Homo sapiens: one gene and its partners. The protein of the gene in region 1 purifies or fractionates together with the protein of each later gene. This does not show direct contact. Each region holds a gene or a part of one and is shown in the gene's direction. Other genes may lie near its edges. The genes, in order: SERPINC1, OS9 and SUCLG1.

Region 1 (3,750 bases):
TTGGCAAGACACAAACCTCATAACTCCTATAAGCTGGAACAATAGGTCTCAACAGCATGTTCCTGAAACCTCAAGGTCTTTGTATTTCTGATTTCTCTTTGGACAGCTCTTCCTAAAGATATTCATATGGCCCCCTCCATCATTTCATTCTGGTTTCCTAACAATGATTCCTAAGGGAGGCCTTTCCTACCAAGTGTTCTCAGATGGTGCCCTCCCCACTTCCTCCCACTGCTTCCTATATCCTTGCCCTGCTATAGTTTTCTCTATGGACCTTATTAACATCTGACTGGCACGTTACATATTTATTTTTTAAATACTGATTTTTTTTTTTTGAGATGGAGTCTTGCTCTGTCACCCAGGCTGGAGTGCAATAGCACGATCTCGGCTCACTGCAACCTCTGCCTCCTGGGGTCAAGTGATTCTCCTGCCTCAGCCTCCTGAGTAGCTGGAATTACAGGTGCCCACCACCATGCCCAGCTATTTTTTGTATTTTTAGTAGAGATGGGGTTTCACCAGGTTGGCTAGGCCGGTCTCGAACTCCTGACCTCAGGTGATCCACCTGCCTCAGCCTACCAAAGTGCTGGGATTACAGGTGTGAGCCACCACGCTTGGCCTAAAATACTGATTCTTTATGTGATTGCTGTATGTCTCCCCCGAATGGAATCCCAGCCCCAAGAACAGTGTCTGCTGGCACAAGCAGCACTCGTGTATTTGTTGAACTCAAGTGGTTGAACAGGAGACTTTTCAATAGTCTTTAATCTAGGGTGACAGATGAGCCTCTGGGCATTCTGGGGCCCTTTGGGACAGTTCTCGGCTACTGTTCACACTGCACATGGAGGGCTTCAAAGGATCCAGGGTCTGAATCAGCCAAGAACTTAGACACAGCTTCAGTTCAGGAGAGATGTCCTCTCTCATGAACGAAGAGCTCTCGAAAATGCCTATGACTGCAACAACAACTACAAGGAGTCCTTGATCACACAGCAGGAGGCACATGCGCCCTGTGAACTTGGTGGCTGCAGTCCTTGTGATGGTGCTTTTGGCTATTTCAGAAGAGGGAAATGTAAACAAACCTGCCCTTTATCTCCACTAGTTTGAATTTACCCAATCTCCCCAATAACTAATAAAAATAACGATACACATAAATATAATTTAGTTTGTTTTTATTTCAGCAGTTGTACGTGGGTTTTTCACCTGCCCCGCATTCTGTCTCCTGATCCCCCAGTAGAGTTTTGCTAAGTATTTCCCAGCTGCTCACACCCCTTAGAAACGCGCTTGGCATGCACCCCGAGGCCCTGCTCTTCTCTCCCTGTCCCACCACTTCAGGGCTGCTGGGGAATGGGTCTCTCTGTGGGCCACAGGTGTAACCATTGTGTTTTCCTTGTCTGTGCCAGGGACACCTTGGCACTCAGATGCCTGAAGGTAGCAGCTTGTCCCTCTTTGCCTTCTCTAATTAGATATTTCTCTCTCTCTCTCCCTCTCTCCATAAAGAAAACTATGAGAGAGGGTGGGTATGAACCAAGTTTGTTTCCTTGGTTAGTTTCCTAACCAAGTTTGAGGGTATGAACATACTCTCCTTTTCCTTTTCTATAAAGCTGAGGAGAAGAGTGAGGGAGTGTGGGCAAGAGAGGTGGCTCAGGCTTTCCCTGGGCCTGATTGAACTTTAAAACTTCTCTACTAATTAAACAACACTGGGCTCTACACTTTGCTTAACCCTGGGAACTGGTCATCAGCCTTTGACCTCAGTTCCCCCTCCTGACCAGCTCTCTGCCCCACCCTGTCCTCTGGAACCTCTGCGAGATTTAGAGGAAAGAACCAGTTTTCAGGCGGATTGCCTCAGATCACACTATCTCCACTTGCCCAGCCCTGTGGAAGATTAGCGGCCATGTATTCCAATGTGATAGGAACTGTAACCTCTGGAAAAAGGTAAGAGGGGTGAGCTTTCCCCTTGCCTGCCCCTACTGGGTTTTGTGACCTCCAAAGGACTCACAGGAATGACCTCCAACACCTTTGAGAAGACCAGGCCCTCTCCCTGGTAGTTACAGTCAAAGACCTGTTTGGAAGACGTCATTTCAAGTGCTCTCCCTCCCACCCCACCTCTTGGGGTAAGGCCTTTCCTAAGCTACCCCTTGGGTCCCTAGCCTAAGAAACAAGGGGGATGTCATCCCTGGTGTAAAGATGCTGTGCAGGAAGTCAGCACTCACGGGATCCAGGGGACGCTCCAAGGGGAATCCCCAGGGCCTGCCATCCATCCGGGAAGAGAGCAAATGCTACCCATGAGGACCTCCTCACTCCCTTTTTGCTCTTTCTTCCACTCAGATCCACCCCACTCCACCCCCACCCAAATCCCAGTGACCTTTGACTAAAGGGCCAAAACTGCTTCCTTTTCTCACAATGAGAGTTGTCCCTCCCTCAATGCCACACACACTCCCTTCTTCATCTGAGTTGTCACAGGAGGCTAGAAACGGGGTGGTGGCACAACTGTCTTGGTTTTAATTTGTGCTTCATAGCCCTCCCAGGGTCCTCTCAGCCTCAAATTGCATTTCCAAATGTAGTTGAAGGACAGAGTGGGCAACCGAAGGCAGTGGAGATGGGAAGATGAATGGCAGGGTCCTCTCCTCTCTCTCTCTGCTTCTTCAGCCTGCCTTCCACATCTCCCTTGGTGCCGCTGCTTCTCTCCGGCTTTGCACCTCTGTTCTTGAAAGGGCTGCAGAACTGGACTCAGACCACGCAAGAAGGCAAGTCCCCCTCAGCTGCCCCAGCTTCCAGCCAGCCCCAGGCTTGCCCAACGGACCACGTCCGTGAATCTGCACTGGGTGCCTGTCTTTCTCTCCCAGGAGAAGATGGGAAGATCCAGTACCCACACACAGACCCCCTTGTGTACACGCAGGAACCATAAACCAGCTGGAGGCAGCCCCTGCCCCACCCTGTCTTATCTACAAAAAATATTACAAGAGACTTTATCTCTTGATTTGCTTCATCGAGTGTCCCAACTACCTCATTTTTTTAAAATGTGAAATTAGCTTCATTTACCTTCATTGAATCCATGTTGGCGACTATTAAAAATTCCAGGCAATAAAAAGGGATGAGAGCCTGAACTAAAGCAGTGGCAATAACTGGTGAAAGAGTAAAAAAACAGAACTGATTGACTCTGGGGTGAACTGATTGACTCTGGGGTTTGACTAAATGAGGAGGAGAGAGGGAGGAATCCAGGGTGATTCTCAGGTTTCTGTACGGGATTCACTGAGCCCACTCACAGGAGCAGGCCTGTGGGGGAGAATTAATTACCAGTTCAGTTTGGTCCTGTTTCCCTGAAGAACTTGTAGGAGTTCCTGGTGGAACTGTCCAGCAAATAGTCAGTCTGGAGCTCAGTGGAAGGGTTAGGGCTGGAGCTAGAGATGTAGGAATCTTCAGCACACAGATATTGCCATTGTTTTTGTTTGTTTGTTTGTTTGTTGTTGCTGTTTTGAGACACAGTCTCACTTTGTCACCCAGGTTGGAGTGCAGTGGCACAATCTCAGCTCACTGCAACCTTCGCCTCCTGGGTTCAAGTGATTCTTCTGCCTCAGCCTCCCTAGTAGCTTGGGACTACAGGTGTGCGCCACCACACCCAGCTAATTTTTGTATTTTTAGTAGAGACAGGGTTTCACCATGTTGTCCAGGCTGATCTCGAACACCCAACCTCAAGTGATCTGCATGCCTCAGCCTCCCAAAGTGCTGGGATTACAGGCGTGAGCCACCGCACCCGGCCAG
Region 2 (3,750 bases), on another chromosome or scaffold:
CACACCTGTAAAGAATTACATGACACCTGCCAGAGTTATCTTTCCATAATGCAGATTTGTACCTGCAGTTGTGTGCTGGTAAGTGTTGGACCCCCAGATCTCTATGGGTGTGGGAGGGAAGCCCTGATCTGTAATGTTTGCCAATGCCTGTGGTATAAATACTCCCATGATGCGCAAGTCAAATGATGTCAACTGTCTTGCAACATTCTCCAAAACTTACCAGTTGGCTCCAACACACCTGTAAGTCTGCATCACTTCTCTGTTCAGTCCTGAAAAACCTTCAATGTTTCTGCCTTGCACAAAGGCTAAGAGCCAAATGTTTCAGCACAGACCAGGGTGGTGGCAGTGGAGGTGATGGGAAGTAGTTGGATTCTGGATATATTTTGAAGGTAGAGCCAATGAGATTTGTTGATGGTTTGGATGTGGGATAGAATCATGGATTACTTCAAGATTTTTGGCTTGAGCAACTGGAATGATGGAATTGTAATTTACTGAAGTGTGAAGGAACAGGTTTAGGGGAGGAAATTAGGTTGGTTTTGGATATTGAAGGTTGAGGTGCCTTTAGACATCCTAGTGGTGATGTCCAGTTGACAGTTGGCTCTGTGGTTCTGGAATTCAGGGACAAGGTCTGGGATAGAGATATAAGTACTCATTGTATTTCTGCCACACTGGCCTTTTTCTGTCCTTCGAACCAGTGGGTCTCATTGTTCCCTCTGCCTGGTGCAGTCTCCTGCAGATCTTTAAATGATTGGCCCCATCCCCTCATTCAGGTTATATTCAAGTGACAACTCCCAGGGAACCTAACATAAGCAAACACACACACACACACACACACACACACGGAACCTAACATAAGCAAACACACACACACACATACACACACACACACACACACACACACACACACACACACACACCCTATTGCTCCTGTCCTGGTAAGCATCCACAGTGTTTTGCATTCTTCAAAGCATGTATCATTACTTGAAATTATTGTATTTGTTTAATTCTGTCTTCCCTCACTAAGATAAGCTCTGGGAAGGCAGGGATGATGTCTATCTTGTTTTCTTATGTATCCACAGCTCCTGGAACAGTGCTTCACTCAAATAGGTACCTAGAAATTATTCATTGAATGAATGAAATGACTGACAAGCCAGTTCTAATATCACCTTTCTTGATTAACCCAGAAAATTAGTTAGTTGTGTTCCTTCACCACTTAATAATACAAGCATCCACACACGTATATAATCCGTTATAGCACTTCATTGTATTCTAGTTATTCGTTTGGGTGTTTGTATCTTCAGTAGGCCAAGAACTGAGGTCAAGACTGCATAGCTTCCTCATATCTGGTGAACATATGCCCTGTGCCAAGCACTAATAGAAACTAGGAACAAAAAGGTGGATGAGACCTAGTCCTGCTCTCAGGAGATATGTTAAATGAACAGCCACAACAAGCAGGATAAATGCCATGAGCAGTGAAGTGCAGCCCGCAGGGGAGCACACAGTCGGGACAGAGTCCAGGGTGAAAAGGAGGCCTCTTGGGAAAAGTGACCTTTGAACTGACATTGGAGGATGAGGAGTTAGACTAGCAGATGGAGAGGATGGTGGGGGGAATGAGAGGGCATTCCAAATGGAAGGTGCGCTAAGTGCAAAAGGCCTGGAGACAAGAGGCAATGGCCTATCCCAGGAACTGACAGATACTCACAGGGACTGAGGGGATAATCATGGGAAGAGGAGTGTAGGAGATGAGTCTGGGTGGTTGGTAGGGGACAGGTCATGAAGGGCTCTGTAGCTATGATGAGGAATTTAGACAATCCAAGAGACAATGGTTAGGGGAGGCAATGAGGTATTTGAAGCAGAATGATGACATATTCAGGTTTGGAATTGAAGGCCCACTCTAGCTGGAGTATAGCAAAGATTGAGAGCTCACTTAGGCAGCTGTGGTAATCCAGGTGTGAAATAAAAGTGGCCTGGGGATGAAGAAATGTGAATATTTAGAGACAGATTTAGGGGGTAAAATCAACAGAGTAAGAAGGAGTCAAGAATGATTTCCAGGCTTTTGGCTTGTGCAGTTAGATAGAGGGTGATTCGTGTTCCTGAGATAGGTATAATGAGAAGAGGAGTAGGTATGGTGAAGGAAAATGGTGAGTTTGGCTTTGAATATGATTTTAGTGGCTGCTAGGCATTCAAGTAGAGATTTCCAAGGGGGCTGTGGATCTCTGGGTCTGGAGTTCAGCAGAGAGATCTGAATTGAACCCAGAGGTGGGGAGTTGTCCTTGTATCAGCCATAACTGAAGCCAAGGTATGGATGAAATCCCCCAAAGAAAACAGTATCTAATGAGAAAAGTGGGATGGAACTTCAAGGAAGCCATCACTAAGAGCATGGGAAGAAGAGGGTTTTGCCAGAAGAAAGGGCCAGAGAGGAGGCTATGGTGACATGGAAACGAGGAAGGACACATTTGAAGGGGAAATTGGTCCATGGTGTTGGCTGTGCCTGAACCTTCAAGGAAGAGGAGGATTAAAAACTGCTTATAGGCAATCATAGTCATTATTATTTTAATAAAGGCAAAACATGTACATGGAAATAAAAAATTCAGACAGTAGAGAAGAGAGCCAGATGGAAAGTATAAATTCTCTACTTCCAGGCACCCCTGACCAGTCCTTTGGTTGGACTTAATGATAGAGATCATTGGTGATCTTTGCTGGGGCAATTTGAGCAGAGTTGTGAAGATGAGGTGTTGAGAAAAGTGGTGAAAAAGTGGAACTCTGCTGGGCGCGGTGGCTCATGCCTATAATCCCAGCACTTTGGGAGGCCAAGGCAGGCAAATCACTTGAGGTCAGGAGTTCAAGAACAGCCTGGCCAATATGGTGAAACCCCATGTCTACTAAAAATACAAAATTAGCCGGGTGTGGTGGTGGGCGCCTGTAATCCCAGCTACTCGGGAGGCTGAGGCAGGAGAATTGCTTGAACCCGGGAGGCGGAGGTCGCAGTGAGCTGATATCGCACCATTGCACTCCAGCCTGGGTGACAGAGTGAGACTGTCTCAAAAAAGAAAAAAAAGAAAAGAAAAAAAGAAAAAGAAACTGGAAATCTTTGAAGAAGTTTGGATATGAAAGGGAGATAAAAGGTAAGCATTAGTGAGAGGTGCTGGGGGGTTGAGAGAGGGGGCATTCTGTGGTTGGTGTGTGTTTTAAGATGGAACAGACTAGAACATGTTGAAGACTTGGGTGAATGTTAGTGGAGAGGAGGAGAGGGAAGTCAAGGTACAGTAGAGAGAATGTGAAAAGAATGTGGACAGGGATGGGATGCAGAACCCTGGGAGAGCAATTTGCCTCAAAAGGAAGGTCTAGGGTCGTAACTGGAATGGTGTATTTGCTAGTGAGTCTGGAGGTTTTGGTGGCAGAAAGTTGAGGCCATTCCTGTCTGGTTGCTTCTAGTTTTCAGTTCTTATGCCACTTGCCTAGGTGATCAGGTAAAGCCCCTACTCCAGGGCAGGCACTGTGATGTGTTGCTGGCCTGATGCCTCCTCAATAGGAACAGCGTGCATGTTGTTTAAAGTGCAGTCTCTGTGGGGCTAGGGAACAACTGGTTAGCTATATGGAATTAAATAAATTCCTATTTATTGGTGTGTGTTTTAAGATGCAACAGACTAGAACATGTTGAAGGCTGTTGGGTGGATGTTAGCGGAAAGGAGGAGAGGGAGATCAAGGTACAGTAGAAAAAGTGAGAAAAAAATGCGGACAGGGCTGGGA
Region 3 (3,750 bases), on another chromosome or scaffold:
TTACATTTTTTAAAGCACAAATTTAAAGTCCTTCCTGCCTTAAATTCTATTATGGCTGATTTTATAACCTCAAAATATAGAGAGGAGATGTTTTTTTACAATTCCTCTAGGTTGACTTTTCTTTTGTCATGAGCCTCTTTTTGCTTTTTTTTTTTTTTTAAAGAAAGTTCTTCTTGCTAAGCAATCCATTTATAATTTATAGTGACACAAATAGTTGTGACATTTGGAATATTCTATAAGTTTTTTGACAGATATTGTTTATTTTTCACCCGTTCTGCTCTTACAAAGGGCTTTTTGAATGAGTAGGGTTGGTACCTTTCATCCATATGACGTCCCAGCACAATATTTGCTGTTGTCACAGTATAGCTTCTGGCAGTATTTGTAGACTTTAGAGGTAGAAAACTATGTAATGTAGGTACTTTTCATTAAAGTACCTACATCCCCATGATGTGACTTTTTTTGATTCCATACTAGTTTTAATGTTTTTTGTGTCTCCCCCTCTGTTATCATCTTGAACAGAGTTTTAAAAAATTATTTTTAACCCCCGGCATCATTTGTGGATGATATGTTGGCATTCTTTGACTCTGTTCACTGTCAGGCTGCTTTCAGATTTACTGACATGCCATAGAGAGTGAGATGTCACAGAAGCTTTCAATTCACAGTGGCATTCAAATGGGCTGAGAAAGGGCTATGCTTGATTCTGTTCTACTCTGACAGTGTAGCAAATTTGAGAATGGGAAGAATGCTATGTCTCTGGGTAGTGTCCTTTTCTTACCCCAAGACATTATTAAAATGATGGTATTGAATTTATTTTACAATGTTTATGATTTAACAAATAATAAGGTGCTTCGTCGTTAATGTTTCAGGCCAAAGAACAGACAGGAGCAACGGCTTCTGTCATTTATGTTCCTCCGCCTTTTGCTGCTGCTGCCATTAATGAAGCTATTGAGGCAGAAATTCCCTTGGTTGTGTGTATCACTGAAGGAATTCCCCAGCAGGACATGGTACGAGTCAAGCACAAACTGCTGCGCCAGGAAAAGACAAGGCTAATTGGGCCCAACTGCCCTGGAGTCATCAATGTGAGTGCAAAAAAACAAAAAGAAACTCAGATTAAGCCTCTCACAAGGCTAAACAGCTTTGAGTGAATGCGAGTGTATTTGTGTGTATGACCTGTGAGTGACTTTTTTTTTTAACATTTCTGAAAACTATGATTACTTTCAGCCTGGAGAATGTAAAATTGGCATCATGCCTGGCCATATTCACAAAAAAGGAAGGATTGGTGAGTTTGTTTGTTACATTCTTATAGATTAAAACGTTATTTGCCTTAAACCCTCAAAACTCACAAAGAATTTTTGACTTTGCAAATCAAGTTTAATTAATTTGACTTGAGTAGAATTTACCAGGGAAGTTTTGTAGTCTATCAATTCTGTATCTTGAATATAATGAGTTTATTTGAGAAGCCGTTACAATTCTGCAGAATCAGTGAAGATTTTTTTGGTGGTGGGAGTTTAAAGATTTTTTTCTGCTCAGCACTCTGTGGATTACTCCATGTGTTTGCATATATCAGTAGTTAATTTCATTAACTGTTATAACTTAGTTATTGCTAAGGAGTATTCTGTTGTATAATTATACCACAGTTTGTTTATTCATTCTCCCATTAATGAACATTTGGGTTGTTTTCATGTTTGAGCCTTACAAACAAGGCTTAGGTCAACATTTGTGTACAGGTCTTTTTGTGGAAACATTTTCGTTTCTCTTGGGCAAAATGTGTAGGAATGGAATTGCTAAGTCATGTTCATATGAACATAAGTCAAGTATATTTAACTTTATAAGAAACTGCCAAATAGTTCTGCAAAGTGGCTATATCATTTTATATTTTCACCATTAATGTAGGAGAGTTCCACTTGCTCCATATCTTCACAAAGATTTGGTATTGTTAGTCTTCATTTTTTTGAGACAGAGTTTTGCTCTGTCGCCCAGGCTGGAGTGCAATGGCTCGATCTCGGCTTACCCCCACCTCCGCCTCCCAGGTTCAAGTGATTCTCCTGCCTTAGCCTCCCGAGTAGCTGGGATTACAGGCATGCGCCACCACGCCCAGCTAATTTTGTATTTTTAGTAGAGACGGGTTTCTCCATGTTGGTCAGGCTGGCCTCGAACTCCCGACCTCAGGTGATCTGCTGGCCTCGGCCTCTCAAAGTGCTGGGATTACAGGCGTGAGCTACCATGCCCGGCTATTAGCCTTTTTAAATGTAGCCATTCTACTGAGAGTAAAATGGTATCTCTTGTGGTTTTGAGTGTCCCTGATGACTAATAATGTAGAGCACCTTTTCATGTGCTTATAAGGCCATTCACATACCTGCTCAATAATTACCTTGTTCTTTTAGATATCACAAACTTTCTCAAAATGTTTTAGGTTTGTAGGCACCTTAGAAAGCAGGGCAGTGATCAGAAAGGGAACTCAGATGGCCTGTCAGGAAAATTGCCCTGCTACTTGGTTAGTTCCTTGAGGAAATAGCCAAAGTAACATTTCAAAGTTAGCCACATTAGGCTTGTGTTTAGGCTTTACACCAAAATTTCTCTAAACTATACTGTTTTTCAGTCATGAAAGATGATTGACCATATTTTTCTCTATCTATAAACCATGGCTACTAATAAGGGTAATTAATTGTCACAGTGGGTGTCGGCTGTGCAGTTTACAGAATTGGGTTAAAGATCATGATTTTTCTTTATTACCAATGTCTCTTGGAGCTGTCAGCCCTGCTGCCAGTGGCAGTACTTGATAATTTCATTTACAAGAGAGATTTCAGGGAGCTCCATAGGCCATCTGAGTTCCAGTGGGGCCAGATCCATGTATCACTGATGCTCTTGTACATATTTGAATATTTCTTATATTCTTGGGTCTGTTTTGAAGGCTGTGGTCTTAAGGTGAGCATGGAAGGAATGCTCTGTGCTGAGTTGCCTTTCTGATCACTGCTCTGCTTTCTAAGGTGAGCATAAACCTAAAAAATGAAAATCAAGAGAAGTTCAGGGAAGTCCTTTAGACCTTGCCTTTGTGAATGGTCATAACCCATTGATGAGACAGTCGTCTGGGAGACTGCTTTTAATTCCTTTGAAAAAGGACTTTTTTTTTTTTTTTAAAAAAAAGAAGAAAATATGTGACACTGTGTCCAGAGTTGGTTCCTTCCAGTGGGTTCTTGGTCTCGCTGACTTCAATGAAGCCGCGGACCTTCGCAGTGAGTGTTACAGCTCTTAAAGGTGGCATGGACCTGAAGAGTGAGCAGCAGCAAGATTTATTGTGAAGAGTGAAAGAGCAAACCTTCCATGGCATGGAACAGGACCTGAGTGGGTTGCAGCTGCTGACTGGAGTGGCCAGCTTTTATTCCCTTATTTGTCCCCTGCCCGTGTCCTGCTGATTGGTCCATTTTACAAACCTCTAGCTACAGAGCGCTGATTGGTGGGTTTTTATAGAGCACTGGTTAGTGCATTTTACAAACTTCTAGCTAGCTACAGAGCGCTGATTGGTGCGTTTTACAATCCTAGCTACAGAGTGCTGATTGGTGCATTTTATAATCCTCTTGTAAGACAGAAAATTTCTCCAAGTCCCCACTCAACCCAGGAAGTCCAGCTGGCTTCACTTTCAACACTACAAGATTTTTGAGGGGGTGAGGAGAGAAAGATGGTTATTTGTGCCAACTCTTCCTATTTTGGTACCATTGCTAATAGTCTCAATAGCCTCCTTGACTTCAGATC

The links.
Region 2: the proteins of SERPINC1 (region 1) and OS9 purify together in Homo sapiens (affinity purification with mass spectrometry; 3 studies listed by BioGRID and IntAct, with this or other methods). This does not show direct contact.
Region 3: the proteins of SERPINC1 (region 1) and SUCLG1 purify together in Homo sapiens (affinity purification with mass spectrometry; 3 studies listed by BioGRID and IntAct, with this or other methods). This does not show direct contact.

Annotation. Positions count from the first base shown.
Region 1 is NC_000001.11:173,915,392-173,919,141, reverse strand, and holds the start of SERPINC1 (antithrombin-III isoform 1 precursor), read left to right. Parts: upstream 1-1,814; 5' UTR 1,815-1,882; coding exon 1,883-1,923; intron 1,924-2,201; exon of another isoform or gene 2,202-2,637; coding exon of another isoform or gene 2,638-2,735; intron 2,736-3,750. UniProt on the Homo sapiens protein: Most important serine protease inhibitor in plasma that regulates the blood coagulation cascade. AT-III inhibits thrombin, matriptase-3/TMPRSS7, as well as factors IXa, Xa and XIa. Its inhibitory activity is greatly enhanced in the presence of heparin.
Region 2 is NC_000012.12:57,697,050-57,700,799, forward strand, and holds part of OS9 (protein OS-9 isoform 1 precursor), read left to right. Parts: intron 1-3,750. UniProt on the Homo sapiens protein: Lectin component of the HRD1 complex, which functions in endoplasmic reticulum (ER) quality control and ER-associated degradation (ERAD).
Region 3 is NC_000002.12:84,438,576-84,442,325, reverse strand, and holds part of SUCLG1 (succinate--CoA ligase [ADP/GDP-forming] subunit alpha, mitochondrial precursor), read left to right. Parts: intron 1-866; coding exon 867-1,079; intron 1,080-1,221; coding exon 1,222-1,279; intron 1,280-3,750. UniProt on the Homo sapiens protein: Succinyl-CoA synthetase functions in the citric acid cycle (TCA), coupling the hydrolysis of succinyl-CoA to the synthesis of either ATP or GTP and thus represents the only step of substrate-level phosphorylation in the TCA.